Regions from separate parts of the Homo sapiens genome. Here region 2 is linked to region 1. The links come from fine-mapping of genetic effects on gene expression. A gene starts in region 1. The other region holds a variant in brackets. All regions are shown on one strand. Distances are from middle to middle.

What was found.
Region 2: its variant is fine-mapped to the expression of TMC2 in lung (TOPMed, PIP above 0.99). The same link has a PIP of 0.9 or more in breast, sun-exposed skin, unexposed skin and visceral fat.

Annotation. Positions count from the first base shown.
Region 1 is chr20:2,529,855-2,544,809 of GRCh38, forward strand. TMC2 (transmembrane channel like 2) reads left to right here and starts at 6,719. Exons shown (of 20, transcript NM_080751.3): 1 at 6,719-6,801; 2 at 7,415-7,462. The coding sequence starts at 6,768. LOC105372504 (a long non-coding RNA gene) reads right to left here and starts at 13,758. Exons shown (of 3, transcript XR_937204.3): 1 at 13,546-13,758; 2 at 12,084-12,270; 3 at 4,674-4,756.
Region 2 is chr20:2,617,736-2,632,690 of GRCh38, forward strand. TMC2 (transmembrane channel like 2) reads left to right here. Exons shown (of 20, transcript NM_080751.3): 17 at 6,536-6,661. It overlaps LOC105372505 (a long non-coding RNA gene), which reads right to left. Exons shown (of 5, transcript XR_007067502.1): 3 at 1,467-1,564; 4 at 771-850. Among named protein-coding and RNA genes, the nearest start is that of NOP56, 27 kb to the right of the region's middle. The variant G/A (reference allele first, on the strand shown) is at 6,927.

The DNA of each region.
Region 1 (14,955 bases):
GTGTGCCCAGGGGTCTGCCACATGTCCTGAAGTCAGCAGTCTTCATAGTTGTGCCTCAGGCAGGGGGGATAGTGGGAGCAAAGACAAAGAGAAGTTCTAGTACCTCGAATGAGAGCAAGTCACATCAGTGGGTAGGAATAGCTGCACTGAAAGAGAGAGGCAGAGGGGGCTGGAGGGTGTTGGAGCTCTCCGGGGCCTTGGATGGCACATTAGAGAGTCTGGGTTTTACCCCTAGGCCATGGAGTCCCAGCGAAGGGTTTTAAGTAGAGGGGAGATGAAGTCAGACCTCTGCTCTGGGGGCTGCCTTAGCTGCCATGCAAGAGAGAAACTGAAGGGCAGGGCCAGCAGCCCGGTGCCCAGGTAGGAGGCAAACACGGGGACCTTTGGAAAGGAGGATATGGTGTGGTCCAGGTTTTTCCCAAGAGGTCAGAAGAGTGTAGGGAATAAAAGCCTGGGCTCTGGAGTAAGAACAGTCAACAGGGCTGAATCCTGTCTCCAGGGACTGCTGGGACACATCACATCTAAGCCTCCATTTTTTCATCTGTAAAGAAAGATAAGACAATCTGCCTCAAATGGCTGTTGTGATGATTCAATAAGTCATTTAAAGGGGTTGGCAAGTTCCTGGCAGAAAGGCAGTGACAGGTAACTCTCAGCTGTGGCTGTCTTGAAGGGTGGGCTTCCTGAGTGTGCAGCCTGCGCGTGGCTGCTCATGGCTCCACACTCAGAAGCGCCCTGCACTTGGTCTAATACTGTGCTGAAAAAGTGAAAGTGAAATTCTTTTTTTTTTTTTGAGACGGAGTTTCGCTCTGTCGCCCAGGCTGGAGTGCAATGGCGTGATCTTGGCTTACTGCAACCTCCATCTCCCGGGTTCAAGGGATTCTCCTGCCTCAGCCTCCCGAGTAGCTAGGATTACAGGCACATCCACCCGGCTAATTTTTGTATTTTTAGTAGAGATGGGGTTTCACCATCTTGGCCAGGCTGGTCTCGAACTCTTGACCTTTAGTGATCCACCTGCCTCGGCCTCCCAAAGTGCTGGGATGAGAGGCGTGAGCCACCGCGTCCAGCCTATAGTGAAATTCTTAAGAATTTTATCTTTTGGGCTGGACATGGTGGTTCACGCCTGTCATCCCAACACTTTGGGAGGCTGAGGCAGGAGTACTGCATAAGCTAAAGAGTTCACGATCAGCCTGGGCAACACGGTGAGACCCATCTCTAAAAAAAAAAAGTTAATTGGGCCAGGTGTGGTGGCTCACGCCTGTAATCACATCACTTTGGGAAGCCGACGTGGGCAGATCATTAGAGGCCAGGAGTTCGAGACTAGCCTGGCCAACATGGTGAAACCCCATCTCTACTAAAAATACAAAAATTAGCCAGGCATGGTGGCACACGCCTGTAATCCCAGCTACCTGGGAGGCTGAGGCAAGAGAATTGCTTGAACCCGGGAGGCAGAAGTTGCAGTGAGCCGAGATCATGCCACTGAATTCCAGCCTGGGTGACAGAGTGAGACTCTATCTCAAAAATAAAAAATAATTTTAAAAAATTAAAAATTAAGGCTGGGCTTAGTGGCTCACACCTGTAATCCTATCACTTTGGGAGGCCAAGGTGGATGGATCACTTGAGGTCAGGAGTTTGAGACCAGCCTGATCAACATGGTGAAACCCCATCTCTATTAAAAATACAAAATTAGCCAGGCATGGTGGCACACTCCTGTAATCCTAGCTACTTAGGAGGCTGAGGCAAGAGAATCACTTGAACCTGGGAGGCAGAGGTTGCAGTGAGCCAGGATCACGCCACTGCACTCCAGTCTGGGTGACAGAGCAAAACTCTGTTTCAAAAACAACAACAAAAAAAAAAAATTAGCTGGGCATAGTGGTGCTTTTTTCCGGCCCCAGCTACTTGGGAGGCTGAAGCAGGAGGATGATTTGAGTCCAGGATGTTGAGGCTGCTGTGAACCATGTTCATGCCATTGCATTATAGCCTGAGCCTGTGAAGAAGAAGAAGGAAGAAGGAAGAAGGAGAAGGAGGAGGAGGAGAGAAGGAGAAGGAGGAGGGGGGGAAGTCTGATGGGACAATGGGGTGCGTACATGAGCAGAGGAGATAGGAACATATGCCGCCCTATTTGCGTATCCCATATATGATGCCCCATGAGCACATAATTCCAGTGGGCCCACGACGCATGGGAGTTTAGCAAGACTCAAAGCCAGTACAAGGCAGGGGTGTAATATCTGTGGTTAAATATGTAGGAATGCTTCCAGCCCAGAGGGGCTACACTTCCCATTTAATCCAGAACTTGCTTCAAACACTAAAAGAAGGCAGTGGTGTTCTAAGAAGCATGACAACTAAGGGACCCTATCCTATTCTTTTTCATTCAAGTTACTTCCCTGGATTAGCCAACCACGTAGGCTGACAATAATGACCCAGAAGAAAAGGAAAAGATAGAGAAACCCATAATTCCTTTTTTTTCCCAGTTCTTTTTCACTCATCAGTAAGCCAAAGGCAGGAAACATTGGTAGAATATGCACATACCAAGACGTGAAGTAAAACCATTGAGTTGGCTTTGTGCAGCATTTCTACAGTCCTGATAAGCCTGAAATCCTGCACATATACAAGCTACAAAATACAAATTGTGTCATTTCAGTGATTCCACATAGGAGTTAAGTACTCTTATACTTGCACTGAAACCTGTTATTGCTCGATATACAGATGAACAGTGGGATCCATGCAAATAATTTAAAATTTTGAGTTTTCTCAGAATGACGTTAAATAGTAGAAAGAGAAAGGCTTTGTATTTTAGTATCTTTAACTGTTCATTTTTCTTGCTTTTTGGACAAGGGACCCCACATTTTCATTTTCCACTGGGCCCTGCAAATTATGTAGGCCGCTCTGCTGCTTTTAATATTAACCCTCGGGCGGGGGGTGAGTGAAGACTGGGGAAAAGGCAGTCGAATCCTAATAGTCATTGGAGGCTAGAAGGACAGACATGTTATAGAATCCTTGCATTTGGTTCAGAGATACACCTTGGATTCTATGTCCAAGCAGATGGGCCAGCCTAGGGGTGCTCAGGCCTGTCCCACTCTCCTCTTGGACCTTGTCTCCCCCTTGGTCTAAGTGAGCATCAGCATCCCTGCTCCCACCTCCCCATGCCCTTCATCCCTACCAGCCTAGCTCCCTCAGTTCCCTCCCCAGCCTATGCAGGAGGACGAGCAGCTGCCTTTCTAGAAAAGGCAACATTAGGCCTGGTTCCCTAACAGCAGAGCCTGAGACGGGGCAGGCGGGGGTGGAGGGTGCTCTCAGGAGAAGAGGCAAGAAGCAGGACAGGGCAGGAGAAGGGGATGAGCAGAGACCCCACTGGAGTCCAGCTTCTGGCTCATCTCACAGGAAGCTCTGGGATGTGAATGACATCAATAAGTTGTTCCCATTTTTGACAGAGGCCGGGCTGTCATACCTCTTTGTTCATCCATCTGTGGCTGTAGGCTAATCCGGGGATGGTGATGGGATTACCTCAGGGTTCAGCAGCCCCTGCTCGGCCAAAGGCAATTCTCCTCCGTTGAAGGGGTCCGCTATGTGCCTTAGCCCTGGAGGATGGGTGCACTTGCTCTGAGAGGGAATCTGGGCAGATCACTGGCAGTGTCCACTACGGAATCTAACCCTGAACAACAAGGAAACCACAGCCCAGAAGTGACCTTCACAAGAAGGCACTTGGGGATTTAATGGTCAGCCCAAGTCAAAGCCACATATCCCAGCTTCCAGACCCAGACTCAATTGATCTCTTGTCACAGACCTGCCCAGGAGACACAAGGGCTCCGCGTTTTTTCATTTTCTTCATCTGACACATGGGAGTGACAACACTGTCTCACCGGGCTGTTGTGAGAAATAGAGAGGTTGGGGCAAGAGTGCCCCAGGCAGGACCTAGCACAGAGCAGTGTGCAACACACATGCCACGAGGATAATAGTTTTAAGACATCACTGTCGTTTTCTTTCTCACACTCTCTGATGTGAGACCTGCTCCCTCTTGCCTGAATGTGTATTCATCTCAGGAAGCATTGGAATTGATCTAGGTGGCGTGCAAAGAAAAAAGCAAAATACTCTGTGTTCAGTATCTGACTTCCAAACTTGGATTTTTGAATTCCTTAGAAATAATTGTGGAAAGCAGGGTTTGTTGTGAGAGAGAAGAAATCTGCCAATTCCTAGATCACTCCTTCAGACACCAAGGGCTAAACCCAGCCACCAGACAGCAAAAACACATCAGCCCCTGAGGACAAGGGTCTCTGTTTCATTTGCTGATGAATCCCCAGAGCCGAGAACTGACTCTGACCCCAGTGGGTGCTCATTTTTATCTGTGAGGAGAAAAGTGGAGTTATCGACTGTGTGGACAGTCAGGTACAAGGGAATTTGATAGTCCTATCTGGAGGGAATTTCTCTCCGGAGATGAAGGTGTTGTAGAAAGCCTTTCTCCTCTGGCAACAGAGAACAACAAGAGCAGGGTAAAGGCAGGAGGCGGAGCTTGCAGTGAGCCGAGATCGCGCCACTGCACTCCAGCCTGGGCGACAGAGCCAGACGCTGTCTCAAAAAAAAAAAAAAAAAAAAAAAAGAGCAGGGTAAAGGGCTGCTGGGGGTCCTCACTCATCAGGGGAGAGCGCTTGGGGCACCCCCAGCAGAAACCTTACTCACCAGTCCTCTGGGCCACGCTGTCCTGTGGCTGCACAGCTGCCCGTGCTGCTTCTCACATGGACCGGGGTCCTGCACTGGCATGGCCCTGGTGGGGAGAGGGATTTGCGGCTGCAGTCCTGCAGTATGGATGCCAGAGAATGCAACTGAGATCCTCCCACTGCCCTCATGCCCCGGGGACTGGGGCGGCCCTGCAGGAACCAGTTGGGTCGGAGATCAAGGTGTGGGACAAAGAGAAAAGCTTCAAAGCTTGAGATGAACCGTTGCACGTGCATTTTAGAGGTAGCTCCTTTGCCCCTTCCCTCGCCAAGCTTGCATGAGGACAGGCACTCCTACTCCTGACCCCTGAGAAAGTACATGGGCATGATCAGAGGCTAGGTCTGTCCTTGACACCCACAGGAGACTTGCCCTGGGGAAGGCTTTTTATTCTGTTGTGTCATAGAATCCTTTGGCATCCTGGTAAGGTCCGTAGACCCCTTTTTATATTTTTTTTTATTTTTGAGACAGAGTCTCACTCTATCACCCAGGGAGTGCAGTGGTGCAATCTCAGCTCACTGCAACCTCCACCTCCTGGGTCAAGCAATTCTGCCTCAGCCTCCTGAGTAGCTGGGACTACAGACACATCCCACCACGCCCGGCTAATTTTTGCATTTTTAGTAGAGATGGGGTTTCACCATGTTGGCCAGACTGGTCCGGAACTCCCAACCCTAGGTGATCCGTCTGCCTTGGCCTCCCAAAATTCTGGGATTACAGGCGTGAACCACCACGCCCAGCCACAGACCGCTTTTCAGAACATAGACATTAAATCCATAAAATAAAACACTAGGATTACAAAGGAGACCAATGATCCTGAAATAGGCATCAAAATCACTTTAAATATCTTTCATATAATGACAATATATGCTTCCTAATTAAATAACAAGATTTCATGGCAGGTCTCTAACTATCATAATTTTGAAGTTGTGATAACATGTAAGATATTTTGAGACATCCCCAGTGGTTTAATTGGGAAAAAAAATAACTGTGACTTTTGCTGAGACAAAAATCACATCTTTGCTTACATTCATGATTGAGGGAAATGCTAAATCGCAGTTAAGGCTAGGAAAAGTGAAAGTGTAGTATTTTCTCCATCACTATTCACAAACCCACAGAATTCCATCCACAGCTCTGGGGGTTCCAGGGACTCCAGATTAAGAACTCCACACTCTGAGACCTTATGACTGCCTTCCAGAGGGTCCCTCTGACACTTTAGTGATGGTTTTCAAAGCAGCCAAATCTGTGCCTCCCTGAAGCCAGGGAGGAAAAGCTGCTGAGGGAGGGGGCGGGGGCTGAGCGGGAACATTCATCTGTGTGGGCTCAGGACGCCTGCAGCAGGATCCACAGTGCAGGCTCCCAGGGCCTGGCACAGACTGACTGATTCCAACGCCCAGTGCCACTCCTGGGAGTATGCATTTTATTTTTAAAAATTTATTATTATTATTTTTCTTTTTGTGGAGATGGGGTCTCACTACGTTGCACAGGCTGGTCTTGAGCTCTTGGGCTCAAGCAATCCTCCTGCCTCTGCCTTCCTAAGTGCTGAGATTACAGGTGTGAACCACCACATGCCAGAATCTGCATTTTAAACAGAAGCCCAAGTAATAACTTAAACAAACATTCTAGAATTTCCCTGGTGCTTTGTCCCAATCAGGGACTCAAGATAGTGGGAGAGGGCCTGGGATGCTCCTCACACCTCCTCTGGCTAGAGTGCCAGCGGCATCATTGCCAGGAGATAAGCCTGCAGCTCCTGGCCCCTCCAGGGCCCCTCATGTATAACTGATGCCTGAAACATGAGGCCATGCTGCCTCTTTGCAGGGAAACCTGAGAAGAGGAGTGTGTGGCCGGATTGATGGGCCGGGAACTCGTCGCCTTCCTTCACCCGTCTCTCTCCCCCAAACTTCACCCACCTCCACATTCAATCTCAAACCAAGAAGCCCCGCCTGCTGTCAGGTCTAGGAAGGGAGGCCAGCCACCATGAGGGCAGGAAAGCAGCCCAGGCTGAAGGCGTGCATACAGGAGCACGCTGCGTGAGCCTGTGCAGGACCCCAGCAGTGCTGCTGACCATGAGCCACCAGGTAAAGGGCCTGAAAGAGGAAGGTGAGTCCACGTCCTGATCCTGCGGGGCCCGCCCACAGGGTTCCTGGGCAGCAGCAGGGGATGGGGGAAGCACATATGGTGTTCAGAGGCATAGGGAGGAGCTGGGTTTGAGTCCAGGGCCTGTCCCCTGTGCGCTGAGCGACCTCGGCTGGTTATTCAACCTCTCTGATCCTCACGCATGAGATGGGGGTAGTCATCACCTCCTTGCAGGGCTACTGGAAGGATTCAAGACAACCTGTGCACAGCACCTGTGTTCAGGCCAGCACTGGAGACTGTCACGGCCGATGCATGCTCCTCAGAGCCTGCTGGGGCGTCTCAGCCACCTATTGTCTCGGTTAGGGTTGCCTGTTCCGAGCAAGCCCCTCAGCAGATTTCTATCTGTCTCTGTCTCTGTGCAGGGCAGGGGGTGGGGGATGTTCTGACCTCATGACTGACAGTATCAGACAAATGTGACAGGCAGGGGACTCTATAATTTGCTGAGTAAAATCATTGGAGCTGGGTCCCAGTTTGAGGCAGCCACAAATCAGCTGAGGGGTCCCACAGTGACCGGGGGTCTGCAGGGAGGGGGACTCACCAGAGGCCAGCCATTTGTCAGCAATCCTGTCTCTTACAGCACGAGGCGGAGTGAAAGGGCGGGTGAAGAGCGGCTCTCCACACACAGGTGAGATGGGGTGGTGGGGTCTCTGGGGAGCCTGCAGTGCCTGGGTGCCCTCTGCTTAGCCCAACAGTCCAGCCACCCATCCAACATTCTCCTTCATCTCCTTCCCTCTCATTCAACACCCTGCATGGAGCCTTCCTGGGAGGCAAGGTGTTTAACATGGGAGGGGGCAGAGTACCACTCAGAGAAGGTGCTGCTCAGCCCTCGGTGTCAGGGGAGACTCCCAGGGTTAGTGACACTCTGAGCTGAGCCTTGGGAAGCAGTGAACATTCACCAGACAGAGGGCAGGGAAGCTCGGTGCAGGCTTCTGGCGGGTGGTGTGGCCAGATTCACATCCAGGCCCCCGGACTCTAGGAGGAACACTCTTAACCTCCAAAAAGTAGTAGGCATAATGGGTGCTCCATCACCTTCCCACTGGGAATGTGACCACAGCTCTCCCGTGAGCCGGTGAGGGAGCCAACTTGCTCCAGGAGAAGTGGGAGAGCCCAAGGAAGCCATAGGCGGGAGAGAAAACCCTTGGTTGAGACTGAGGGTTCAGGGGAGAGGGGCAGAAGCCACACTCACAGGCTGGGCATCTTCATGTCACAAAATATTATGGATGCGATGCTGTTTTCTCCCCCTTCACGTCCCAGGCAGGGCTGGGTCCTGCGCCCCACACTAGTAGGCAAGAAACCAGAATCTTGGGGAGTGATGGGGTTCTGGGGGGTTGGAAGAGATCTCCTTCCTCCCCCATTCTGGGAGGGAGGGCCCTTTCCACTCCCTCCTGTGGGAGGGCCCTGTCCTGGCCCCACTCTGGCCAGTAGGGAGCTGGCCCCAGGAGCCACTTCATCTGCCCTTTCCGCTCCTGTGACCCGCTGCTGTCTGGTTGTCGGGAGCCTGAGCTTCAGTGAGGCCGCTGTGTTACAAGGGGAGAGACCCAGGAGCAGGAGGCAAGGAAGAGCTGGGCAGAGGCTGGCAGGGGGTGCAGCCATGGCATCTCAACAGCCCTTCCTGGCCCCTATCCCGGAACTTGCCTCAGCCACTGTCCCTTCTTCCTACCCCACCTGCCTGCCTCATCCACTCTTTATCTCAATCCAAAGATGAAGGAGCAAATGTGAGAAAGTTCTATGCCCCAGGGTGGCCAGACGAGAAACCTTCCTCCCGGGGGTCGGGCCACGGTGCTCCCGTAGTGACCACTGCCTGTAGGATGCTCAGGCTGGTTCTCCACACCCCACTCCCCTCGTAGTCATCCAGATGCCGTCCCTTCCGCACCCAGCCTGGCCTCCCTCTGCCTCTGCTGCAGGGCTGTGCTGTGCGGGACTCCCCTGTGAGCAGTAGTCCTTAGTAGGACTGAAATGGAAGACCATTTTGCCTACAACACAAACCCTTTCCTACTGAAATATTCCACGTTGCCGCTGCCGTTTTCCCTTTCCCATAGAACACAGGAAATTGGTCAGAATTTTCACTTCACAGATCTAAGTGGTGAAGGGGTGCAGTAAAGTTAAACATTGGGAATATATTGAATTAACTGAAACCCAGCCCCATGAAGGTTTCCATTTTAAATCTCCTCTGGAGTCACCTGCGACGGGACCTGATATTCTCATCCTTCCCTTTATACTCTACCAGGAGGGAATAAAAGTTTAAGAATACAATGTTCTTTTCTCAGAATAGCTACAGTTTGTTACTGTGTTCCTTGAAAAGAAGGATGAGAACTCTCCCTCCTCCTGTATCATTTGGTAAGTGCACTGAACTGTTGAGATCACGGGACTGGAGGGCTGCCGCAGCCTCTCCTCGGCCTGTGTTTTGCACTGTGAATTCTCTGACCGAGTCAGGTGCTACATAGGAGGAGGCCTGTTACATTTAGGAGAGCGTGTGCTGGGCTTGGAGGCCTTCCTAGCAAGACAGCTGCCTTTCCAGTTCCTAAATTATGCATTATGTGGAGTCTGTTGAAAACTGATTATGAAAGAGAAAAAAACAGCTTATTTTCTGTGTTGAAGAGGTCTGGGGAAGATTGAAGGGCAAATTCTGGCTTGTTTTCCACATTCCATGTGAATTTCGTTCAGTTGGAGAACTAAATTACAGCAGGAATTACAGCTCAGAAAAAAAATTGTAACACCAAATTATATCTACAGTGCTGGGAAGTATGCTTGGTACAGTTCATTACCACAATGAAAACCATTGTATTAGCTGACTGAGGACACAGAGAGAGCTCAGAAGAGGATGCAAACAATGACGTTCCTATTCAGTCCTTTCAAGCAACATAGAGCTGATCTTTATGGGACCCCAGGGAACCCTTCTCCATGATCCCTTGCCTTGATCTCTGCTTCTCTGCCCTTTCTGAGCACTGAACTCAGTCCTAGAGCTCTCTTAGGGGTCATGGCTGTGATAATATTTGTTTTGCTCCGTCCCTTTTGCAACAGGGGGCTACTGCCTTCCAGAGCATTGCGCTGGAGCATTTGTAAGACAAATCATACCTCACTGGCTAACACTGACTAGCTTCCTACCCTGGATAAATTATGCAAAAATAGTCTTTCTTTACGTTGTCTTATCAAAGACTATTTTTCCACAGGGAGTGAGAAGAAGAAAGAGGTTGGGGCAGGAGTGGGCTAAGGAAACCTGCTCTATGATAAATACAGGACAGGTTCTCTTAGCTCACTCCCGCAAATAGCACACAAGACTATTCTTTTCTTTTCTTTTCTTTTTTTTTTTTTTTTTTGAGATGGAGTCTTGCTCTGTTGCCCAGGCTAGAGTACAGTGATGTGATCTCAGCTCACTGCAACCTCTGCCTCCCAAGTTCAAGTGATTCTCCTGCCTCAGCCTCCCAGGTAGCTGGGATTACAGGTGCCTGCCACCACGCCCAGCTAATTTTTTGTATTTTTAGTAGAGACCGGGTTTCACCATCTTGGCCAGGCTGGTCTCAAACTCATACCTCGTGATCCACCCGCCTCAGCCTCCCAAAGTGCTGGGATTACAGGTGTGAGCCTCCGTGCCTGGCCGCAAGACTTTTCAATGCACCTATGCCAGTTATCTCATCAGTCCTGGCAGAAACCTCAGCATTTAAAACCGAGTCTCAAAGACATGGACATGGCCGGGCACAGTGGCTCATGACTGTAATCCCAGCACTTTGGGAGGCTGAGGTGGGGAGATCACTTAAGGTCAATAGTTCAAGACTAGCCTGGTCAACATGGTGAAACCCTGTCTCTACTAAAAATACAAAAATTAGCCAGGCTTGGTGGTGCATGCCTGTAGTCCTAGCTACTTGGGAGGCAGAGGTGAGAGAATCGCTTGAACCTGGGAGGCGGAGGTTGCAGTGAGCCTAGATGGTGCCATTGCACTCCAGCCTGGGCGGCAGAGAGGGACTCTCAAAAAAAAAAAAAAAAAGACATGGAGATTATTAATGATGGCTTCAGACCCATGTTTGGTGCCTCTTTTTGCCTTTAAAATAAGTGAAGCAATCACAGCCAGTATGCTCACAAGACCTTCCTTGTAGCAGCTGCAGAGCAGTGTCACCCTCCCCACATCACCTTCTTCCATGTTGCTAGTGTGACCCTTTGATGTAGACCTTGCCCCAGCAAACATGCTCCATTATCACACCCTTACCCTCCAGATTTCAACCCAGCTCCCTGTGGGCGTGTACCCCTCTCCTCCTGCCTCCCACACCAGAACACACCCGGGACGCAGCTCTGCCTTGGACGCCTATGCCCCAGACTCCCTGGCATTTCTGCTGGGGCCCCTCAATCCCCTGTTTCCTCTGCCTGGAATCCTCCTAACTTGCTACCACAATCACCCCCTCCATTTCTCTACCCACTTCTTCTCTTGCAAACTCCTGTTCATCCTTCAAGATTCAGAGTAGCCCCTAAGTATGTATTAAAGACTTCATGGTAATTATTTTTAATTGAGCTGTAAAATATTCCACATAGTAGATAAATCACAGGTTAATTCATTATTCTATTACTGAATATTTAGGTTATTTCCCATTTTTATAATAGAAATAATGTTGCATTGAAGATTCTTGGGCTTGGGTTGACTCCTACAGGTGGAATTAACAGATCAGAAAGTATTTTTAGGCTGGGCATGGTGGCTTACGCCTGTAATCCCAGCATTTTGGGAGGCCGAGGCAGGCGGATTAATTAAGGTCAGGAGTTTGAGACCAGCCTGGCCAACATGGCAAAACCCCTTCTCTGCTAAAAATACAATAATTAGGCAGGTGTGGTGGCACACACCTGTAATCCCAGCTGCTCGGGAGGCTGAGGCACAAGAATCTCTTGAATCTGGGAGGTTGAGGTTGCAGTGAGCCCAGATTGCACCACTGCCCTCCAGACTGGGCGACAGAGCAAGACTCTGTCTCAAAACCAAAAAAAAAAAAAGAAAGAAAGAAAAAAAAGAAAAGAAAAAAGAAAGTATTTTAAAGCTCTTGTTACATGTTGCCAAACTGCATAAAGAGTTGCTTTACAATTTATATTGCGACCAGTAATAAATATGCATTTTAACAAGTCTCATTAGTCCTGGATAAAAAATTTTAAAAACGTAATACTATAAACAAGACAGGAAATCCCATTATTGACTTATTTTAAATTTCCTTTGATAACTAGTAAAACTGCATTTTCCGCCGTTTCCTAATTGCATTTCCCCATTAGTAACTTACCTGTTCATAAGTTTTGCTTAACGGTCTTTGTGTCCTCCCCCATATTGATATGTGAGTTCTTTCCATTAGTCTCATGTTTGATTAAAAAATTTTCTTATTTGAAAAAAACTTCAGAGTAAATGTTGGAGAGGAGAATTTTTTTCCTCTACCTTCCTAGGTTCAGTGACTACAGGCTCTGTAAATCAAACTGACAAAAGACAGATCAACAAGAGGGGAAAAAAGGATTGAATTACATATGTACAAATGAGAGTTCACAAAGAAGATGACTCAAGGAGGTGGTTAGAATTTGGGGCTTATATACTATCTTAGAGGTATATATCATCTTAAAGGGTGATAGAGTGTGGAGAAGAAGCTTGACAAAGGAAAAGCGTTTTGGGGCTTCTGGGTAAGTTATGGAAGGTGACTAGGAAACGTGTGGTAAATAAGTGTTATTCAGTAAGGTTTGTTAAGCAGGTAAGAGTCTTCTCAGGTGCTAAGAGTTGTCTCTGGAGTAGTTATCTTCCAAGTATAGGAGAGGGAGACCCCTTCCAAATGGAAATATATGTCCTGCTTTTAGTCCAAAAGGGCAGAGGAGCGACATATATCTAATTGCCTTCAGCTTGAAATAATCTTTATGCCGAAGTGGCATATTTTGGGATGGCGTCTTCTAGTCTCCTTCATAAACATCAGTTCTTTGTGAAGCATTTCCAACAATCCCAGCCATAATTTATCACTCCCTTTTTCTTTCTATATTTTTACAGTCTTTTCTCTTTAGTCCACAATTTTTTTTTTTTTTTGACAGAGTCTCGCTCTGTCACCCAGGCTGGAGTCAGTGGCACATCTTGGCTCACTGCAACCTCCGCCTCCCGGGTTCAAGCAATTCTCCTGTCTCAGCCTCCCGAGTAGCTGGGACTACAGGCGAGCACTACCACGCTTGGCTAATTTTTATATTTTTAGTATTTTATACTTAGTATATTATATTTAGTAATATACTTAGTATTTAGTATTTTGTGTTTTTCTTTTTAAAACAAAATACAAGGCCAGGCATGGTGGCACACACCTGTAATCCCAGCACTTTGGGAGGCCAAGGTGGGCGAATCACTTGAGGTCAGGAGTTTGAGACCAGCCTGGCCAACATGGTGAAACCCTGTCTCTACTAAAAATACAAAAATTAGTCAGGCAAGGTGGCATACACCTGTAATCCCAGCTACTCAGGAGGCTGAGGCAGGAGAACTGCTTGAACCTGGGAGGTAGAGGCTGCAGTGAGCCAAGATCTTACCACTGCACTCCAGCCTGGGTGACAGAGTGAGACTCTGTCTCAAAAATAAAATAAAATAAAAACAAAACACATTTATCTAAGTTATTGTCCAAAGCTGGCTCCCTAACACCCCACAACCTGTTGATAAGACAAAACCGATCTATTGCTTATAGCAGGCAAAGCTTTGGCAGTATCTTACAGAGGGGAAGGAAGGCCGGAACTTACTGAGAATTGGAAATTTGATTGAAGGCAGGTCTTTCAAAGTGAGAGCTGGAATGAGACTGGGTGAGAATCACAACATAATAGTCCACAATAAACAGCATGGCCAGGATTTTGAGGTGAGGCATTCAAAGAATCTTAGAGCCCAAATTGAAGAATTGACAGGTCTTTGGGAAAATCCTGTAATGAACAATCAACATTTGCCTGGGTAGGAGATGCCTAGAAAAATAAAGACATGCTCATGAAGCAGAGGCGTAGCACAAAGTCATCTTAATACAGACACTAAGGTATAGCTGGGCTCTCTGTGTCCAGACTCAGTATGAGGGAAGATGGTTTGAGTTCTCAATTTCTCCTTGTGGTCATTCTTCAGCCCAAGCTGAAGGAAAAGCCATCAGTATGTCAATCTAGATATTCACCAGTATTTGAGAGGTCATCATTTCATATCAATTGTCTGTTAACAGTTGTTTCACATCCAGTTTCTGGTGGCAGCTGTTTCAACCTGCATGTCAGTTTTTTTTTTTTTTTTTGAGACAGAGTCTCGCTCTGTCACCCAGGCTGAAGTGCATGGCATGATCTTGGCTCACTGCAACCTCCACCTCCTGGGTTCAAGCGATTCTCATGCCTCAGCCTCCCAAGTAGCTGGGACTACAGGCGCTCGCCACCATGCCTAGCTGATTTTTTTTTTTTTTTTTTTGTATTTTTAGTAGAGACGGGGTTTCACCATGTTGGTTAGGCTGGTCTCGAACTCCTGACCTCAAGTGATCTGCCTGCCTTGGCTTCCCAAAGTGCTGGGATTACAGGCATGAGCCAACGCACCCAGCCAGATTTTCCAGTTCTTTTTAGTGGATAACCCTTGCTGGATGATTTGAATGATGGCAGCAGTGCAGTAGCATTTAAAACTCTGGAGATCCCACATCTGAATGCTGGCACACAGACAAATACTAAGAGAAGGATTGTCATCAGAGTTTGTATAATCTACTTCTCAGCCAGGATCTAAGAGTGCCCTGACTAAACAAGAAAGTAGATCTCATCCCGAATCTAGAGTCCATGTAACCAAATATGAGGTTACTCATCAAATTACCCAATTTCTGATTTCTTTGTTTACTTCCTAGATCTTTTTAGTAATATCAAAGATTTCAGAGAGGTCTGCAGGAATATAAGTACAGCATTCTTCCACTAAAACAGCACACATTCCCCACCTTGGGAGATCAATATCCTATCTAAGGCAGTTCTGTTCTGGACCACCACCCACCCAATCTCATAAACCTCTTGACAAGGGAGTTTTATGGCCTTACTGGCATTGTCTAAATCATCTGCTGTTCTCTCAACCACAGCATGCTACATTTACCCTACTAATCAGATCTCTTGTAAATTATGAAACAAAGGCTGGGTGCAGTGGTTCACACCTGTAATCCC
Region 2 (14,955 bases), 88 kb after region 1:
AGTCTCACTCTGTCACCCAGGCTGGAGTGCAGTGGTGCCATCTCAGCTTACTGCAACCTCTGCCTGCCAGGTTCAAGCGATTCTCATGCCTCCACCTCCCAAGTAGCTGGGACTACAGGCATGCACCACAATGCCCAACTAATTTTTGTATTTTTAGTAGAGACGGGGTTTTGCCATGTTGCCCAGGCTGGCCTTGAACTCCTGGCCTCAAACAATCCACTTGCCTCGGCCTCCCAAAGTGTTATGATTACAGGCGTGAGCCACCGTGCCTGGCCTAAACATTTATCTTTTCTTTGTGTTGGGAACTTTGAAATTATACAATGAATTATTGTTAACTGTCATCTCCCTGCTGTGCTATGGAACACTGGGACTTCTTCCCTCTATCTAACTGTATATTTGTACCAGTTAACCAACCGTACTTCATCCCCACTCCTCTCTATCCTTCCCAACCTCTGATCACCTCATTCTACTCTCTACCTCCATGAGATCCACTTTTTTAGCTCCCACATGTGAGTAAGAAAATGCAATATTTGTCTTTCTGTGCCTGGCTTATTTCACTTAACATAATGACTTCCTGTTCCATCCATGTTGCTGCAAATGACAGGATTTCGTTCTTAATTTCAATTAAAATAACCACACATGGCTAATGGCTACCATATTCGACAGCACAGTTCTACCCTTTTAACACATGGATAACTTACTACCTGGGATTACTTTACCATAGGATAAGTAATGGTGGATATTCTGAGGATGAATTACCATACACTTACACGTGCCGTTTAAATGTGAAGCAGCTGCAGTGGACTCTTGACAGACCTCAACTGAGCTCTCTGCTCTCCAGAGCATTGGCCTGGGGGTTCAATACATAAGTCAAGCTAGTTGGGAGACTAGATATTGTATAAAAAGACAAATAATTATGTAAGGAGGTAGATCAAGAGATAATGTGCATCTACTGTTCTCTTTCCAAATGCCTGACCTTCTGAAAACAAAGCCCTCTGCCAACTCCGTAAAGAGAGGTTCTGTGGTTAAAGCAGTTTAGGACGTACTGCCCCTTCTGTCTGCCATTATCTCACTTAGAAATGCTCAATGCACACTCCTTTGTTAAAGGCTCTGAAGAATCATGCAATGAGGTAACACCTGTAAGCTAGTGTCTCCGTCCTTATTGACCACAGAACCCTTTCTGCATGGATCACTCATCCAGGGCTGGAAATAGGGTGAGGCAGGTGAGTGACGCCCTACACTGCACATGAGCAACCCTGAGGGCATTACTTCCTTAAATTGTGCACTCAGGGCCTCACCCGCCTCACTCTAGTCCCAACCCTGCCTGCCAATGAGGAGAAACCCTGTCCCGTAAAAGGGTCGTATATGCAAAACAGCCCCTAAATGCCCAAAGAGCCTAGAATCCAAAGGAGGAAGGAGACAAATGCAGTTTGTCGGCTTTGGGTGATTTATTAGGGGTAACTTACAGTCAGATGCATGGTCACAAGCAGCCGTGAGACAGGTAGATCTCCACACCTCAATCCCCCAGGCCCAGGGCTTCTATCTTGGGGAAAGTATGCGTGCTCTGGAAGGAATGTATAGGTGGCTCTGAACATCACAGCCTGTGATTTCTGCAGCAGCATCAAGGGTTGTTTTGGAGGAAACTTTATGTAGGAATAAGAGTTCCTACATAAAGAGTAATACATCTGCTAGTCATGTGGGAGGCACTCTCAGACTCAGGGTTAGTTAGAAGTTACAAGGCAGATTAGCATGTAAAATAAAGTCACTCATGTCCCGCACAAACACACTTTGAGAAATGCTGATCCGGTCTTTCTCAGTTCATAAAGGACTTTACTAGATAAAGGCCTGTGATGGTTGGAGCCCAGGGATGTTAGCAGGAGTGTTCCAGCAGGGTGTGATCTGGAAAACAGTGTTCACACAGAAGGAGGGGATCAGTCTAGAACAGAAGGAATGTGCTGAAGTGCAGATGGCCTAAGATTTAGCCAGGCTGAAAGGAGAACCGAATGGAAGAAGCCTCTGTTGGCTTCTTCCTAAGCAAGGTTTGGAGGGCTGGGCCCTGGGTGCAAATGCCAGCCCCCTTTTTCTCAGCTTCCCATCTGTCACTGGGTAGGAGGTCAGCAGGGACAATTATACTATGATAAGAACCATCTCCTACAGTTGTATGGAAAACTGAACTTATAAGAAAGGAACTTGGCTAGCCAGGCATGGTGGTACGTGCCTGTAGTCCCAGCTACTTGGGAGGCTGAGGTGGGAGGATTGCTTGATCCCAGGAGGTGGAAGTTGCAATAAGCCATGATTGCACCACTGCACTCCAGCCTGGGCAACATAGCAAGGCTCTGCTTCAAAAAAGAAAAAAAGAAAAGAGAAGAGAAGAAAAAAACAGAACTTGGGTATTTAGCTGAAGAGATTCCCAAGCAAAGTATTGAAGGTACAGCCTGGTTTCTTCATGCTGCTTATAGAAAATGTGCAAGGAAAGAGGTATGTTGAGTAAGTAACTGATAAACAAGAAAGTACCAGGATTTGATGATTCTGGAAATTCTCAGCCTTATCTAGATTGCAAAATATGCTAAAACTAGATTCACTGTCATGAGAATGTGCTGTAAAAAGAAAGCCAAGAGTGAGTCTGGATAACCTTTTGCTAGTGTTTCTGAAAGATCAAAAGGTCTGAATATCATTCACACAGAAAACTCTGACTAATCGTGTGACTAATGCATCGCCTCAACCATCACATCAGAAGTCAGGAATAGAAATAGGATTATCCAGAAAAGATCATGTGGGACTCTCTTCTTTAACAGAGTACATTCTCATGACATACATGAAAAACTCACACAGTTTTTGACAATATTATATCAGCGGAAACATTACCAACTTGGACTGAAAGAAACAGAAAGAAGACAAAATAAAGGCAGATCATTGGCCTCCCAGAATTCTGTGGCGGGAAACAGACTGATAAAATTTACTCAGCTGAGACATGTGCTATCCTTCAAGAAGAAGGAAGGGTGGAAGTGTTCTTCCAAGGGCAGAACTGTGAACCCACAAGGGCAAAGCTATGGGCACAGTAGGGCAGAGTCTGCAGCCCAGAGGATTATTCTCAGGACTTTAAAACTTAATGGAGCTTGGCTGATTGGATTTCAAAATTGCTTGGAACTGGTGATTCCTTTCTTCCTTCCATTTTCTCCCTTTTGGTAATGGAGTGTTTACAACTTTTATCCTATGCCTGTCCCACCATTTTATTTTTGAGAGTAAATAACTCATTTTCTAGTTCCTAGAATCTTGAGATGGGGATATCATCATGGATTAGCCAGGTGGGCCCTAAGTCACAAGTGTTCTTATAAGAAGGAGGGAGGCCGGGTGCAGTGGCTCACGCCTGTAATCCCACAACTTTGGGAGGCTGAGGCGGGCAGATCACGAGATCAGGAGTTCAAGACCAGCCTGGCCAACATGGTGAAACCCCGTTTCTACTAAAGATACAAAAAATTAGCCAGGTGTGGTGGTGCGTGCCTGTAATCCCAGCTACTCGGGAGGCTGAGGCAGGAGAATCGCTTGAACCCGGGAGGTGGAGGTTGCAGTGAGCCAAGATCATGCCACTACACTCCAGACTGGGCAACAGGGTGAGACTCCATCTCAACAACAACAAAAAAAAAAAAAAAGGAAGGAGAGGGAGGGAGATTTGACTACAGAAAAATAGAAGGTGATGTGACCATAGAAGCAGGCAGAGATTTAAAGATTCTGTGCTGTTGGTTTTGAACATGGAGAAACCCCATCTCTACTAAAAATACAAAAACTAGCCAGGCGTGGTGGCAAGTGCCTATAATTCCAGCTACTCGCAAGGCTGAGGCAGGAGAATCACTTGAACCCGGGAGGCAGAGGTTGCAGTGAGCCGAAATCATGCCACTGCACTCCAGACTGGGCAACGAGCAAGACTCTGTCTCAAAAAATAAAAAATAAAACCCCTAATGGAGCTTGGCTGATTGGATTTCAAAATTGCTTGAGGTTGGTGATTCTTTCTTCCTTCCATTTTCTCCTTTTTGGTATTGGAAAGTTTATAACTGTTATCCTATGCCTGCCCCAGGTTAGTTTCAACCCAGTGAATCCCTTTCAGACTTCTGGCCTCCAGAACTGTAAGATATTAAATTTGTATTGTTTTAAGCCACCAGCGTGACAAACAGCAGGCACTAGAATCTGATACACCATCTAATTCAACGACAAAATAATCTACATTCAACTGTCACATAAAAGCCTAACACGTAAACTTAACTTTTCTCATTTGTACATGGCGGGTATGCACTGGAAATAAAAATAATAATAATAATAAATGAAACATTGTCATACAGTGATGTGCCTGGCACTTGAAATGCCATCATGCTATAACTGCGTCATTGCAATTTGTGGTGTGCTGGGCAACAGTTGTAAGCAATGAGATGGCCACAAATGGTCTCTGACACAACTGCTCTTCCCTGTCATTATAGCACAAAAAATGAGTGAGCATGGCTGTGTTCCAATAATACTTTATTTACAGACACTAAAATTTTAATTTTATACTTCAATTTTTACATGTCACAAAATAGTATTCCTGTTTTGACTTGCTTTCAACTACTTAAAAATGTAAAAATGATTCTTAGCTCACAGACCATATGAAAACAGGTGACAGACTAGGCGCAGTGGCTCACACCTGTAATCCCAGTACTTTGGGAGGCCAAAGCAGGTGGATCACCTGAGGTCAGGAGTTCAAGACCAGCCTGGCCAACATGGCGAAACCCCGTCTCTACTAAAAATACAAAAATTAGCCGGGCGTAGTGGTGCCTGCCTGTAATCCACCAGGCATTGTGTGTAAACTCTGGAGGCTGAGACAGGAGAATTGCTTGAAACCCAGAGGCAGAGGTTGCAGTGAGCTGAGATTGCACCACTGCACTCCAGCCTGGACGACAGAGAGAGACTCTGTCTCAAAAAAAAAAGAAAGAAAGAAAAGAAAAGAAAGAAAAAGAAAACAGGTAACAAGCTGAATTTGTCCATGAGCCATTGTCGGTGAACTCCTCATCTATACTTTACACAGAAAATGTTTAGCTGCAAAATTTTGAAGGGCGCTTATAACTTAACAGCACTACACTCAATGTTTTATATCAATTCTCATCTATATCCTCTAAACAATCTTCTGAGATAAATACAATTATTATACTTAAAATACCATATTATACTATAGTATTATTATACTACATTATACAGATGGGGAAACTGGGGCAGAGAAATTTTCAATACCTTGCCCAAAGGTATTGAACTTCTGCAGATATTGAACATCCAATAGAACTTACTGTAATGATGAAAACATTCCATATCTGCATTTCTAACACAGCAGCTACTAATCATATGACTATTAAGCACTTGAAATGTGTAACTAAGAAACTGAATTTCAAATTTGACTTCATCTTAATTTTTATTTTTAATAGCCACATCAGACAGCACAGCTTTCGTGGGGAGAACCAGGGCATGATATGAATACAAGCAGAAAGAGAATAATTGTCAGGCCGGGCACAGTGGTTCACGCCTGTAATCCCAGCACTTTGGGAGGCTGAGGTGGGCGGATCATTTGAGGTCAGAAGTTTGAGAGCAGCCTGGCCAACATGGTGAAACACCATCTCTACTAAAAATACAAAAAATTAGGCAGGCGTGGTGGCGCTCACCTGTAATCCCAGTTACTTGAAAGGCTGAGGCAGGAGAATTGCTTGAATCCGGGGGTGGAGGTTGCAGTGAGCTGAAATTGTGCCACTGCACTCAAGCCTGGGTGTCAGAGTGAGACTCCATCAAAAAAAAAAAAAAGACAGAGAGAGAGAGAATAATTGTCCACGTGTCTCACCAGTGATAAATGGGGGATCAAGGATTTAAACCAGGAATTTCAAACCCCGTATTCCACCTCTTGGCACCAAAATTATCAACCAAGAGCCAGCAGCATCCAGGAGTCTCTGGGCCAGCATTTGTAGAAGTAAATCTGCATAATGGTTCTTAGGTATTTGAAGAAAATAAAAATTACAGTTGTGAACTGTCCAGGAGCCTGTCCTAGGTGATCCAATATCTCCTAGACTTAAAATCTGAAGGTTAATTCTAGGTATTTCTGAGAGACACTCAGGTTGTCCAGCACATCAGCTTCTGCAGAACTGTTTCCCAGGCCCAAAGGAAGCTCCATGTTGGCCTGGTAGCTACAAACACAGACAATTTCTCCAGTTAGAATACATGAGGAAAACCATTTTTTTCTGGCTGAGGAAGGTGTCAGACACAAAAGACCAGTGAAGGCTAAGAGGTTGTAAGTTACTTAGGATAGAAAGCCGGTGAGCCGTGTGCCGACCCAGCTGTCACCCTAGCCAGAATGGCAGCCCCTCAGGGGGAATTTTTTACTTGCAGTTCATTTGGAGCAGAGCTCTGGTTCTTCCAGGAAAGCAGTGGCAGGCAGCAGCCCTGGACCTGGGTAGGGGGGCCATGGACACAGCTGTGAATGCCACAGGCACATGGCAGCATGTTATATTGTGTCCTCTCCTTTTTCCAGTGGGAAAAACAGAATGTACGATGTCCTCCAAGAGACCATTGAAAACGATTTCCCAACCTTCCTGGGCAAGATCTTTGCTTTCCTCGCCAATCCAGGCCTGATCATCCCAGCCATCCTGCTGATGTTGTAAGTTAGCCAGGACCCATGGCTCCACCCCACGGAAACTTCTCCTTGAATTTGAGACTTCCTTGGCAGGTCCTTTTCATCTTGCCTTCTTAGTCTGCACTCCCCAGAAGCAGAATCCATGACAAGGATTCAAGTGTAAGTATTTTATTAGGGAGGGGGTGAGGACTTGAGACAAGGAAGGGAAAGGAAAATGCATGGTTATCACTGTGAGAATTCTGGGAGGCAGTGTGCCTCAGACTCAGCCCTCCCTAAGGGCAAAGGATCC[G/A]AGGCATTTATAGACCAGCTCCCAGCGTCATTCATGGGTAAAATGGCTTCAAGGGGTGTGAGTGAGGGGTCCAAGAGGGAAGGGAAGCTTCTGGTAACAGAGATGAGGGCACCAGCAAGTGCAAGTCTTTTGGAGCACACTGAAAATTTGGGTGAGCCCTGACAGTATCTGCAACAACTCCCACTAAAATGCTCACTAGAAATATCAAAGTCCTGTGGGCTCTGAGCCTATCAGGAAGCTGAACGGTGATTCGGCCTGATCCTGGCTGGGCCCACAGCACTACTCGATGGAGCAGCTTATACACTGGAACAAGCTGGTTCCTTCATCACTGTCCCCCTCAACAACCATTAGAGAACAAGTTCGAAAATCTCTGTATCCCCGGTGCCAGCCTAATGCCTAGAGCATAGCAGGCAAACAGTAAATGCTCAAGGAAAGAACTAGGGAAGAAAGGCAGGAAGCCAGAGTCTTGGATTGGAATTGTTGCCATCAAAAAATGTGCTAGTAAAAATGTTAGCATTTTTTCTTTATTTAAAAAAATCTTATTTTGGCATGCTTTTTTAAAAATTATGAAATATTCCCAGCATACAAATGAGTACAGACAACCATGTACACGATCACAAGATTCAACAGATGTTAACATTTTGCAATATTTACTTCAGGTTTATCTTTCTTCGTAATAGAAATAAAACATTACAGATGCACTTCAAGCCCCACTCAATCCTTCTTTCTTCCTCCCTCCCCAAAGGTAACTATTATACAGACTAGATTTAATTATTTCCATGCATATTTTGTACTTTTTAATCACATGTGTGTATAGTACTGTTTCCGGAGTTTTAAACCTTTTCATGAATGACTCACATTACATGCTTTTCCTCAAACAACATTATGTTGGGGGATTTATCCATGCGGATACATGAGCACATGTTTGAAGGCTCTACTATGTTCCATCTCATGAATAAGCCACAGTTTATCCATTCCTCTGCATAGGGATAGTTAGGCTGTTTCCACTTTTCGGCTATTGCAAACTGCGCTCCAGCCAACATTTTGTATATATCTCCTTGCACAATTCTGAGAGTTGCTCTAAGGTAGACATCTAGAAGCAGAATTGTGGGTCATCAGCATGTGTTTCTTCAATCTTTTTAGATCTTACAGAATTGCTCTCCAAAGTGGTTGTATTCCCTTTGGACTGTTATTTATAAATTCCAACTCTCCGGTGAAATTCTCCAGCTTTCTATTTTCTTGAACATAGTGGTTATAATTACTTTTAAAATCCCAGTCTGATATTCCAATATCTGAACCACCTGGGTGTATTTTTGTTGTCATTTGTTTTCCTCTTGTTTATCCTCAGCCCTACTTTTATCATGGCATGTAATTTTTACTAGATGTCAGACATGTGGATGAAAAATTATAGAGGCTGTGAATAATGTTATCTTTCCCCAAAGGGATGGGTTTTTTTTCCTGAAGGGCAAATGGAATACTAGGAGATCACTTAATCCTGTCAAGACTTGATGTTTTAGCTATCTATTATTACATAAGAAACAACCCCCAAAACTGAAAAATAATATTTTATTAATGAATCTGCAATTTGGGTAGGACTTAGCAGGAATCATTCTTTTCCTCTCTACTCAACATCATCTGGGTCAGCTCAGCTGGAGGCTGGAGGGCCCACTTTCAAGATGGTCACTCACATGACTGGCCAGCTGGCACTGGAGGCCTCACTTCCTTCTCACAAGCTGCTTGGGCTTCCTCATAGTATGGTGGCTGAGTTTCAGGAGCAAGCATCCCAAGAGAATGCAGTGGATATACATGGCATCTTTACTTACTCCTGCCATACTCTATTGAAGCAATCACAAAGGGATACCCAGGTTCAAGAGAAAGAAATATAGACTTATCTTTTGATGAGGCAATGACAAGATTCTAGAAGCACATGTAAGACAGGAGTCATAGTATTGTGGCCATCTTTGGAAAATAGTTTGCTATTGCTAGCTTTGGGCTTTCTCAGGGCTGATTTATTTCAGTTTTGCCCTATTTCCAAGACACTGACCTTACTCCTACAATGTGATCCTTACTATTGAGCACAGTCTTTTAGGGGTCTCAACTGAAAGCCTACAGTGTTTACCAATTCCCTCCTGTGACAGTTACTACGGGACTGAACGAAGTAGGACGAACACAGAAATGAAGACAAAGAAAAAAAGGATTTGTTTTAAAGAACGGGTCAGGGGACTCCTTGCTTCTAGTGAGCAAAGGCAGCCCTGAGCTTCTGCAGCCCTGAGCTTCTACAGCCCTTCGTATTTATTGGGTAGAAAGAGCAGGGAGGAGGAGGTAACGATTGGTCAGCTGTTTGATTGATCACGGGTTCACATCATTGCTAACAGGCCTCAGATGTGCCTAACCACAAGAAACACTGTGCCTGGGGCGTGACTGCCCTCAGCATTCCTTCTGGGTGCCGACATAGTTGTCAGCTTGCCAACATCCTGCATTCATGAGAACAGCTTGCTGTTTACTCATATAGCCTCCAGTCGTATACTGAGTTGATCACGACCCTCATTCTTTTGGCCTCCACCACCCTCCACCTTGGCAGGGCTTAAAACCCATTCTCTCTTTTCCCAATTCTTCCGTCTTTGCTTATTCTTTTTCTCCAGTAGTACTGCTACAGCCACTGTGAAATCTCTGCTCTGCTCTTCAGCCTCTCTGGTGTCATTTTCTTCTGGGCTTCCTGAAGCAATTGAAGAATTGGTCAATCATTTGAGGGCAATTTGTACACAGAGTTTGGCTTATTTATCTGCAATTTGTTCTTCTCTGGGATTCTGCCCCTCAAGTCCCAAAGACTGTGGCAGTAATTAACTCTGACCTGCATCTTCTCCACATTGTAAGATTTCCACTTTCTGCTTGGACTCTGCTTCTGGGTCACAAATTGGAAAATACTCTCAGGGAGAAACCCTGGAGGAATGTGGAGCTCACCTCACATGCTTCCCTTCTCTCAAGCATCAAGTCCCTTTAGTCTGCCTGTCACTCTCCCATGTCTTAAACTACAGTTTTGTAAATTTTGCTCAGCATTTACAGTTGTTTTTCTCTGGAGAGCTGGACCAATACAAGTCCCTTAGTCAAGACCAGAAAAAGAAGTCTTTTCTTTCTTCATTTGATTTTCCACAGAGGCAGGCTCCCTAGCACCAAAACAACAACAAAAATAATCTGTGATCATTTTTATTAGAATTCAGAAAGAAGGCCGAGCATGGTGGCTCACACCTGTAATCCCAATACTTTGGGAGGCCGAGGTGGGCAGATCACCTGAGGTCAGGAGTTTGAGACCAGCCTGGCCGGCATGGTGAAACCCCATGTCTACTAAAAATACAAAAATAAGCCAGCTGTGGTGGTGTGTGCCTGTAATCCCAGCTACTTGAGAGACTGAGGTAGGAGAATTGCTTGAACCCAGGAGGCAGAGGTTGCAGTGAGCCAAGATCATGCCACTGCACTCCAGCCTGGGCAAAAGAGCGAGACTCTGTCTCAAAAAAAAAAAAAAAATCCAGAAAGAATTGGCACACCTATGTTGTTAAGTTTTCCAATCCAAGAATACTGTATTCCTTATCATTTTTTCATTTATGTCTCTCAATATTTTTAAGTTTTCTTCATAAATTTCATGCACATTTCTTATTAAATGTATTCCTCTGCATTTCTCTTTTTGTTATGATAAATTAGGATAGCTCTTTCATCATACTTTCTAACTAGTTTTTGTTTTTCTATGTAAATGTTATTTATTTTCTATATATAAATTTTGTATTCAGTCACTGATATAGTTAGGCTTTGTGCCCCCATCCACATTTCATCTTGAATTGTAATCCCCATAATCCCCACATTTCAAGGGCGGGGCCAAGTGGAGGTAATTGGTTCATGGAGGCAGTTCCCCCCGTGCCGTTCTTGTGATAGTGAGTGAGTTCTCACAAGATCTGATGGTTTTATAAGGGGCTCTTCCCACTTTGCTCGGCACTTCTCCTTCCCGCCACTTTGTGAAGAAGGTGCCTTGCTTCCCCTTCACCTTCCACCTGTAAGTTTCCTGAGGCCTCACCAGCCATGCTGAACAGTGAGTCAATTAAATCTCTTTCCTTTATAAATTACTCAGTCTTGGGTAGTTCTTTATAGCAGTATGAAAACAGGCTAATAAGGCCGGGCACAGTGGCTCATGCCTGTAATCCCAGCACTTTGGGAGGCCGAGGCGGGCAGATCACGAGGTCAGGAGATCGAGACCATCCTGGCTAACACGGTGAAACCCCGTCTCTACTAAAAACACAAAAAATTAGCCGGGCGTGGTGGCGGGCGCCTGTGGTCCCAGCTACTCGGGAGGCTGAGGCAGGAGAATGGCGTGAACCCGGGAGGCGGAGCTTGCAGTGAGCCGAGATCGCGCCACTGTACTCCAGCCTGGGCGACAGAGTGAGACTCCATCTCAAAAAAAAGAAAACAGGCTAATACAGTCACCCTATGAGTGTATTGTTTATCATATTTACTCAACCAAAGTTCTTGAATCTTCCAGGTCATTTTCTCATTTGTAAACAATGAAAATGTTATATTTTATTTAATTCTTAGATCTCTTTTTTTCTCTGTAGGATTAATTAGTACCTTCCATGGGAAAAACAAGTTAATTAATATTTGGTGATGAAATATATTTTTGTATTTTTCCTGCATTTACAGGGTGGGGAGTGCTTTTAATGTTTTCAGTTAAGCACAGTACTGCTTTTTTGGAGAGTTGAGATAAGTATATTCATGAAATAAGGAAGAAAACAACCAGGGAATGTAAGTCATTGTAACATAGGTATAAGAAATCAATAATTAGGAAAGTGGAGTAACTTTTCTAATTATTGATTTCTTACAGAAGTAAAAAAAAAAAAAAAAAAGTGACCTCAAAAGGTGGTGGTGAATTTAGGGCCATTACTAGCCCATATAGTACCTTGTGCAAATTTTTTAAAGGTGCCCACTCCTTCAGACGGAGGTAGGCCCATGCCAAGGGGCACATTTGACAAACAGAATATGGATAGATTTCAGCCAGCAGTCACCCCCTTAGTCAGGTGCCTTTTATGCAGTAAACAGCCTGTATAATGGCTATCTAAGCCAGAATCTTTTTCCTTTGGTGTAGACCAGGGGTCATCAAACTGTAGTCCACAAGCTAAATCCGGACCACACTTGATTTTGTTAAATAAAGTTTTATTGGAACATATTCATGCTCATTCATTTATTTATTATCTATGACTGTTTTTCACAGAAAAAGACAGAATTTACTTGTTGTGATAAGGAATGTATTGTCTAGAAAGACTAAAATATTTATTGCCTGGCCCTCTGCAGAAAAAGTTTGCTGATCCCTAATGCAGACAATAAGGAACCACTTTCAAATATGCTTTGACACTGAACTTAAAACACCTAATCAGTAAGACTTAAAAATAATGACAAATAATAAGTCCAAAAAATATTTAGAAGAAGAAGGAATTAGGATTGTAGAAGACAATAAATCTTGAACTTGAGCCTTGATAAATTCAAGGCTCAGGAAAAGGAGTCGATTGCATTGGATAGAACTTTTAGAGTTGTTCAAGTCTACTATTTTCTTGTTGACCTTCTAATTGTTTCTATTACTGAAAGTAAAGCATTGAATTTCCAGCTATTATTATTGGATTGTCCATTATCTCTCCCTTAAATTCTGTTTTTGCTTCGTATGTTTTAAGGCTGTGTTGTTAGGTGCATATATGTTTTTACTTATTACATTTTCTTGATGAAATGACCCTTTTACAATTACAAAATAATCCTATTTGTCTCTAACAATTTTTGTCTTAATGTGTTTCCCATCCTTTTACTTTCAATCTACTATTACCTTAAAAATCTGAAGTGTGCATTTTTTGGCTGGGTGTGGTGGCTCATGCTGGTAATACCAGCACTTTGGGAGGCTGAGGCAGGAAGATTGCTTGAGCCCAGGAGTTTGATATCAGCCTGGGCAACATGGCAAGACCCATCTCTACAAAAACTTTAAAAATTAACTGAGTGTGGTGGCACATGCCTGTAGTTCCAGCTACTTGGGAGGCGACAAAGGTGGAGGATTGCTTGAACTGAAAAGGTTGAGGCTGCAGTGAACCATGTTTGTACCACTGCATTCCACCCTGGGTGACAGACTGAGACCTTCTCTCTAAATAAATAAATGAAATAAAATATAGTGTGCTTCTTTGGAAAAGCATATAGCTGAAGCATAGTGTTTATCCATTCTGTCAATCTGTGCTTTTTATATGGAGTGTTTGATTCATTTACATTTAATTACCAATAAGTTAACATTTATGTCTGCTGTTTTCTATATGTCTTATGTATTTTTGTTATTTTATTCCTCTATTACTGCTTTCTTTTGGGTTAAATATTTTAGTACATAATTTTAGTTCCCACGTCATTTCTCTAACTATATTTTGTTTTAGTTATTTTCTCAGTGATTGCCCTGGAGATTATAATTAATATAACAAACTACTTTGAATTAATACCAACTTAATTATAATAGTATACAAAAACCTTGTCCCTGTACAACTCCATTCCCTCCACTCTCCTTCAGGTTGTTTCTGCCACACAAATTACATCTTTATACATTTTATGCCAACTGAATAAGACAGGAGAAAAAAGAGCTACAAAGACTACATTGATACTAGCTTTCATGTTAACCCATGTAGTTACCTTTACTAGTGCTCTTTATTTCTTCATGTAGATTCAAGTTACTGTCTAGTGTCCTTTCGTTTTAACCTAAAGAGCTCCCTCTAGCATTTCTTACAGAGTAGGTCTGCTAGTGATTACTTCTCTTGGTTTTTATCTGGGAATGACTTAATTTCTCCTTCATTCTTGAAGAACAGTTTTGCTGGATTTAGAATTTTTGGTTGATAGTCTTTCTCTTTCAATCTTTCAAATATGTCATCCCACTGCCATTTGGCCTCCATGGTTTATATGAAAAAACAATTGACTGTTAATCTTTCTGAGGCTTTCTTGTATATGATTATTTGTTTCTCTCTTTCTGGATTCTCTCTTTGACTATGGCTGTTTTTTTTTTCAATTTGCTATGATATGTCTAGGACTAGATCTCTTTGAGTTTATCCTGCATGGAATTTGTTGAGCTTCCTGTGTAAATTAATATTTTTTCATCATATTTGGGGATGAAATCTGATTAAAAATAGCCATTATTTATTCAAATATTCTTTCTGACCCTTTCTGTCTTTCCTCTCCTCCTCAGATTCCCATTAGGCATGTGTTGATACATTTGCTGTTGTCCCATAGGCTGTGTTATTTTACCTCATTCTTTTTTCTTTCTGTTCCTCAGACTGGATAATCTCAACTGATCTATTTTCAAGTTCATTGATTCTTTTTTTTTTTTTTCGAGATGGTGTCTCACTCTGTCACCCAGGCTAGAGTGCAGTGGCATGATCTCAGCTCACTGCAGCCTCCACCTCCCAGGTTCCAGCGATTCTCCTGCCTCAGCCTGTCGAGTAGCTGGGATTACCGGCATGTGCCACCACACCTAGCTAATTTGTGTATTTTTAGTAGAGATGGGTTTCACTATGTTGGCCAGGCTGGTTCTTTCTTCTGTCATCTCAGATATGTTGAGCACCTCCAGAAAATTTATTATTTCAGTTATTGTAGATTTCAACTCCAGAATTTCTATTTGGTTATTTTATTTATTTCTTTTTGCTAATATTCTTTATTTGGTGAGACATCATTTTGATACTTTCAGTTCTTTAGAAATGGTTTTGTATCGTTCTTTGATCATATTCTTTGATCATATTTAACATAACTGATTTAAAGTCTTTGTCTCTTAAATACAGCATCAAGGTTTCCTCAGGAATGGTTTCTATTGACTACTTTTCCCCCTGTGTATGGGCCAGGCTTTCTTTTTTCTTTGTATGTCTTACTAGATTTTTGGGGTTTTTTGTTTTTGTTTTTGTTTTTTTACAGAGTCTCACTCTGTTGCCCAGGCTGGAATGCAGTGGCGAGATCTTGGCTCACTGCAACCTCCACCTCCTGGGCTCAA